2 separate regions of the Homo sapiens genome follow, and region 1 is linked to region 2. The links come from fine-mapping of genetic effects on gene expression. A gene starts in region 2. The other region holds a variant in brackets. All regions are shown on one strand. Distances are from middle to middle.

Evidence for each region.
Region 1: its variant is fine-mapped to the expression of LINC00426 in blood mononuclear cells (TOPMed, PIP above 0.99).

Annotation. Positions count from the first base shown.
Region 1 is chr13:30,322,817-30,325,619 of GRCh38, reverse strand. The region is part of intron 1 of LOC124903145 (a long non-coding RNA gene); the gene reads right to left. Among named protein-coding and RNA genes, the nearest start is that of LINC00427, 4.3 kb to the right of the region's middle. The variant C/G (reference allele first, on the strand shown) is at 1,496.
Region 2 is chr13:30,372,331-30,375,133 of GRCh38, reverse strand. LINC00426 (long intergenic non-protein coding RNA 426) reads left to right here and starts at 1,220. Exons shown (of 5, transcript NR_024464.2): 1 at 1,220-1,351; 2 at 2,760-2,803.

The DNA.
Region 1 (2,803 bases), 50 kb after region 2:
TCCCAGGATTCACCTTTTTGGCTATCCATCCAGAAAACTGGAGCCTTATCACCCTGCTCTTCTGTGCACTCACTGTGACTCTGCCCTGTCCAGGACCAAGTGGTGGGAGCCCAGAGAAAAGAAAAAGCATGGTCTTGGGACCATGATTCCTTTGACTGAAGAGGAAGGTCCCGCTTCGACAGCATATTCTGTGCTGTGGGCCTTCCATGCTGTGGCTGCCACTGCCAGAAGACTCTTCTCTCACCTTGAGTCTGAACTAGAAGGTTTATGCTGGAACCCTCCCTGTCACAAAGGCTGCCTTGAGTCCTGTCCAGGGAATACAGAGGGTAAACATGGTAAATCCACAGTCAATTGGTGATACTTTTGAATTCTGGTTTTCTCCCACAATCTACCTGCTACTGTTTACTTTTTCAAGAGTTCTCAAGCAGCTGCACCAAGCATTCTGTCCAGGTGTTATAGATATATTCTATGGGAGAACCAGAACCAAAACCTGTTCCTGGATTTTTGCAGAGCCATTTCCCCAGTATCTCCTTGGTCTGAGATCTGGGGACATTTTCCAGGTTGCAAAGGTAGAATGGATACATCATCCTGAGAGTTTATGATGGCAATTGTTAAATATGTGAGTTTGTATGTTCATGTGTATATGAGTATTTATTAAGTACTGAAAATAGACATTGCAGGTGAATTCAGGCAATATGAAAGCTACAAAGGGGAACCAAATCCTTGTTTCCAAACTGGAGTGGTGGTCACCTCCTCATGTTCCTAAACCACTGCAGAGGGGAAGAGAGCTTTTTCCACCTGTTCAGCAGATACAGTACTGTAGGTAACAGCTTGCCAGCAGACCTATTGTTCTATTGGGCAAATATAATATTCTAGCCATGGAGCTGTCAGCTCTGCATCAACTTGCAGGTACCATCGAAACCTTTTTTTCTTTTCCTTTTATTCATTTCTTCTTCCTGCCCCTTGTTATGGAGCAATGTGATGTTAGGACACACATGATTAGATCTAGGTAACAGAAAGTGATGGGTGGAGTGTTGATGAAAAGGAATGAGGTTCTTACGTGTTGTAAATGTTGTGATCCAGGCTGGGGCAATCTTTAGGTTGGGGGTGGGAGTTGCAGTGCAGAAAACCCTTGATTGATAAAGATATAGATGTGCTTGCCAATGTCACCCAAGGGATAAACAGCTTGCCCGCCATAAAATCTCATTAGTCCTGCCAGGTGAATGAAGAAATGTAAAGATGTGTGGCCCCAGTCTAACTAAAGCCATCATCTCAAGAATGTCTCAGCAGTGTGTTATGGGTCTGTTTGAAGATTTCAATTTACCTGTAGTAGGTTTGCTTTCTTTCTTTCCACTAGAGGAAAACATTCAGCTTGTTTTATTGTTTTGGATTCATTTTCAGAGGACCAAAAATATCATAGCCCTCTCTCCAAAAAAAAAAAAAAAAAAAGTAAAAATACCAACCGTTTGACTGTCCTCCCCAGCACACACACAAT[C/G]TTAAAGGAGATTTCAGTTTGTGCAACAATGGGTCACTTTTGTGGATGTACAAGTTGAATGAGATAGTTGTGAATTCATTTGTGGTGGAAAAACATGCTGAGAATTTGAAAATGTCTCTGAAGAAAAGACATTGTATTATATTTTCCTTTTTGACATATTTGGTGAGTATAAGAAACATCATCAATTCTTTCAACAAATGTTTACTAGGAACCTCTGAATGCACGGTCAGTGTTAGGAGCTACAAGAGATGTAGAGGATACACCAAGAGCAAGGGCCTTACTCTCTCAGAGCTTCCAATCTGCCTGTAAAGACGATATAGTTGTAGGTGGTGTTGTCTGAGTGTTCACTCAGTTGCCAGGTCAGAAAGCTTGGCCAAGCTTCAGCTTCACTGGTTCCTCACTTCCCATATTCAATTGGTTGCCAAGTCATCTTGATCCTATTTCCAAAATGCTTCTCAAATTTACTTGGTTTCCCTCCTCCTACTGCTGCTGCAACTCTATCAGGCTTTCACTTACTTCAATTGCCCAGATCATAGCAATTTCCTTCTAACCAACCTCCAATCAAGTCATGTATCTGGTCATGACTTTTCCCTATTCAAAATTTTTTCATGGTTCTTTATTATGTCCAGAATAAGGCCCACAGCTCCTTAGCACATACATTATTCTGGTCCAAACTTCCTCTTTCATGTCTGTCTTCCACTGGACCTGTAACATGAGGTGCTCTCTGAGAAGACCACGGATTTGCCCACTCCTATGCCTTTGTTCTTGTTATTCTTCTGCTTATAGTCCTCTCCTTTTTTTTTTTCTGCCAAGCAAAATCAAACTTGTTCTTCAATACAAGGTCAAATGCTGCTTCTTCAGTGTGGCCAGTCACCGGTTATAGCTCCCATTTCTAGGCTCCTGTAGAACTTTGTTTAGGTATCATTTATTCATACATTCATTTGATGTATTCATTAAGTAATACTTTATTACTGGGCAATAGACTAGCTGCTGAGAATGCAAAGGTAAGACATCATTCCTGGCCTCAAGGGACTTAGTCTAGTGGGGAGATGAATTTGAACATAATAAGCATATGCAATGAGAAAAGATAGTGGTTATAATGGATGTGTGGACAAAGGTGTGTGTGTGTCTATGGGAGGTCCAGCAGAAGCAGCCACTAAATCTGCCTAGAGGAACTTCCATAGGACACAGCATTTGAGCTGAGGCTTGGTGGTCGGTTAGGGTTTTCCTGGTAGACAAGTAGAGGCAGGAGATTTCAGGTAGAAGAGCACAGCGAAGGCACTGAACCATGCAGAGCAAGGCACCCGA
Region 2 (2,803 bases):
TCTAGGGTTTGCTCCTTCCTTTTGAGTTTGAGCCTGGGGGTGTGGGTTGAGGATAAAGAGTAGGTGTGGGCCAGGAGTGGTGGCTCACATCTGTAATCCCAGCACTTTGGGAGGCCGAGGTGGGAGGATCTCCTGAGCCCAGGGGTTCGAGATCAGTCTGGGGAAGGGACGAGACCTTGTCTCTACAAAATTAAAATAAAAATAAATAAATTAGCCAGGCCTGGTGGTGCATGCCTGTAGTCCCAGCTACTCAGGAGACTGAAGCAGGAGGATCACTTGAGCCCAGGACTTTGAGGCTGCAGTGAGCTATGATCACGCCACTGCACTCCAGCATGAGCAATAGAGTGAGACCCTGTCTGTATTGAGAGAGAGAGAGAGAGAGAGAGAGAGAGAGAGAGAGAGAGAGAGAGACACACACAGAGAGACAGACAGAGAGAGAACAAAGAGCAGGTGTGATCGGAGCTCAGGAAATCCTCCCTCTGGTAAGTAGTCTCAGCCTTCTATTGAGGCTGCCACCACAGTGCCATCCACAGCTTTTGCAGACCATGACATACGCAAACTGTTGTAAAATTTTGGCAGTGCTCATAGTCTCAGAGCCAAGCTTTGAAACAGAGAGGCAGCAGGAGACAGTGGGAGGAGGGTGGGATTAGAGACAGAAGGTCTCCGGGTTTGAATCTTTTCTCTCTATTGGCTGGTTGTGTGACTCTTGTCTCAGCTTCTTGGGCTGTACAAAGAGAAAACTAACACCTGCCTTAGAGACTTGTGATGATTTAATGTAGAGTGTGTGACATGTTATTGGATATTAGCAATTGCTGATATTTATAATGAAGAGCACTGGAAGCTGTCACAGTTCTCATAGTTTATTTTGCATTTGCTCCTCAGCATCCTCTGCTCATCTCAGTGTCTGTGTGGTCTTAGTGGGATGCTGACTATATTAATACTTGTAAACTTTACTCATTTTCCATCTCAAATGGGACAAGGGATAAAAATTATTTTTTATATTGTATATTTATTTAGTAAGTGAGCACTTTCCATTTTAGGCACTGGAGACACAGAAATGAAAGAGACAACGTGCCCTCAAGGATCTCACAGTGTGTGGTGAGGTGGACACACACACACATATCTAAGCACATGACAGTGAGAGGCACGTGGTCACGAGGTTGTGACGTGGAGCTGAGAGCTCAGAGGAAGGGCTTTGGATCAAGTGTGGTCAGACCACACTCGGCCATGAAAGTCTTTGAAGGTGGGGAAGGGGTGAAGATGGTGAGGGGATTCCACGGCTGGGAGAGGTACACTCCCTACACGTTCTAACCAACTGGCCGTGGGGAGGAAGCTGGAGGTCAGGACACAGGTAGGGCCTGGGTTTTTGCCTCATGTGACTGGGTGGATGGTCACAATTCGGCCATGCTGTCTTTGAACTCAACACCACCAAAATCATAGGATATTCCTAGTAATGTTGATTTCCACTAGATTACTTTTGTTACCAGAGTTTTAAGGGCAGAAGTCTTTGTCCCTTTTTTTCTCTAACAGGAAGCCATTCTGGGCCATTTATTTGCCGTTAACTTACACAGCCCACTGGAGAGTGGAGGGGTGTGAATGTGGGAGCCTGGGTGAGGGCTGCACCGGACTGTCACCAGGACAGTCCTCAATGCTGCCTGACTTAGCCACATTGCCAAAAACATACACCCATAGGTTATGAAATATTCAATACTGTATTGTATGGGAGAAATACAAAGAGGAGAAAGAACTGGGTTGAAAAGGTGGTCTGGTCAGGTATCTCAACCCACTGGCTTATAGACCAGGAACCACTCTAGACAATGCATGTAAGGAACAGAAATGGGAAACAAAAACATTTAAATTGTATTTTTCTCTGATTGCAATAAACTTGGAGGAAAGCTATTTTCTTACTTTGAGCTTTTCTTCCAATTATGATGAATGCAGAGATTAATTACAAAGGACCCGGATAAACTAAAACTCATCTACAGCATTTTTTTTTTTTTTGAGATGGAATCTCGCTCTGTTGCCCCGGCTGGAGTGCAGTGGCGCGATCTCGGCTCACTGCAAGCTCCGCCTCCCGGGTTCACGCCATTCTCCTGCCTCAGCCTCCTGAGTAGCTGGGACAACAGGCACCTGCCACCACGCCCAGCTAATCTTTTTTGTATTTTTAGTAGAGACGGGGTTTCACCTTGTTAGCCAGGATGGTCTCCATCTCCTGACCTCGTGATCTGCCTGCCTTGACCTCCCAAAGTGCTGGGATTACAGGCGTGAGCCACCGCGCCCGGCCTCTACAGCATATTTTAAAAGGCAAAAAGGTATTTTAAAATTCATGTTGGAAGACGTGGGCTCTAGCTGGGGCTGAGACAGATGATTCAACTATATTTTTTATTTTACTGCGCACTGAGGGTTGAAGCTGAAGAGCATGCATGCTTACCATTGTGTGTGCACATGTGTGTATGTGTGTCTTACACCAAAGACTGAAATCTCAAAAAAGCCCCAGGGAGCAGGTGTAACTATTATGCTACAAATGAACAGGTGTATTGTGGATCGCTGTTATATAGTTCTTTTCTTCAAACATACCTTCCTGATATAACGTTTTCTTCCTGAAAGCAAACAGTTTCTACTATTGGATTCTTGAGTGTATCATTAAGCTTCTCCAAACACAAATAACATCTACTATGCTTTAAAAGTAATGGCCCACACAGCTACTTATTTGTGTGACTGTTTATCTGTTTATACCTTTGCCTGTTTTTATCTTCAAGCAAATGGGGGATCTCAGAAGTCTTAATGAAGTAACTATCCCTGA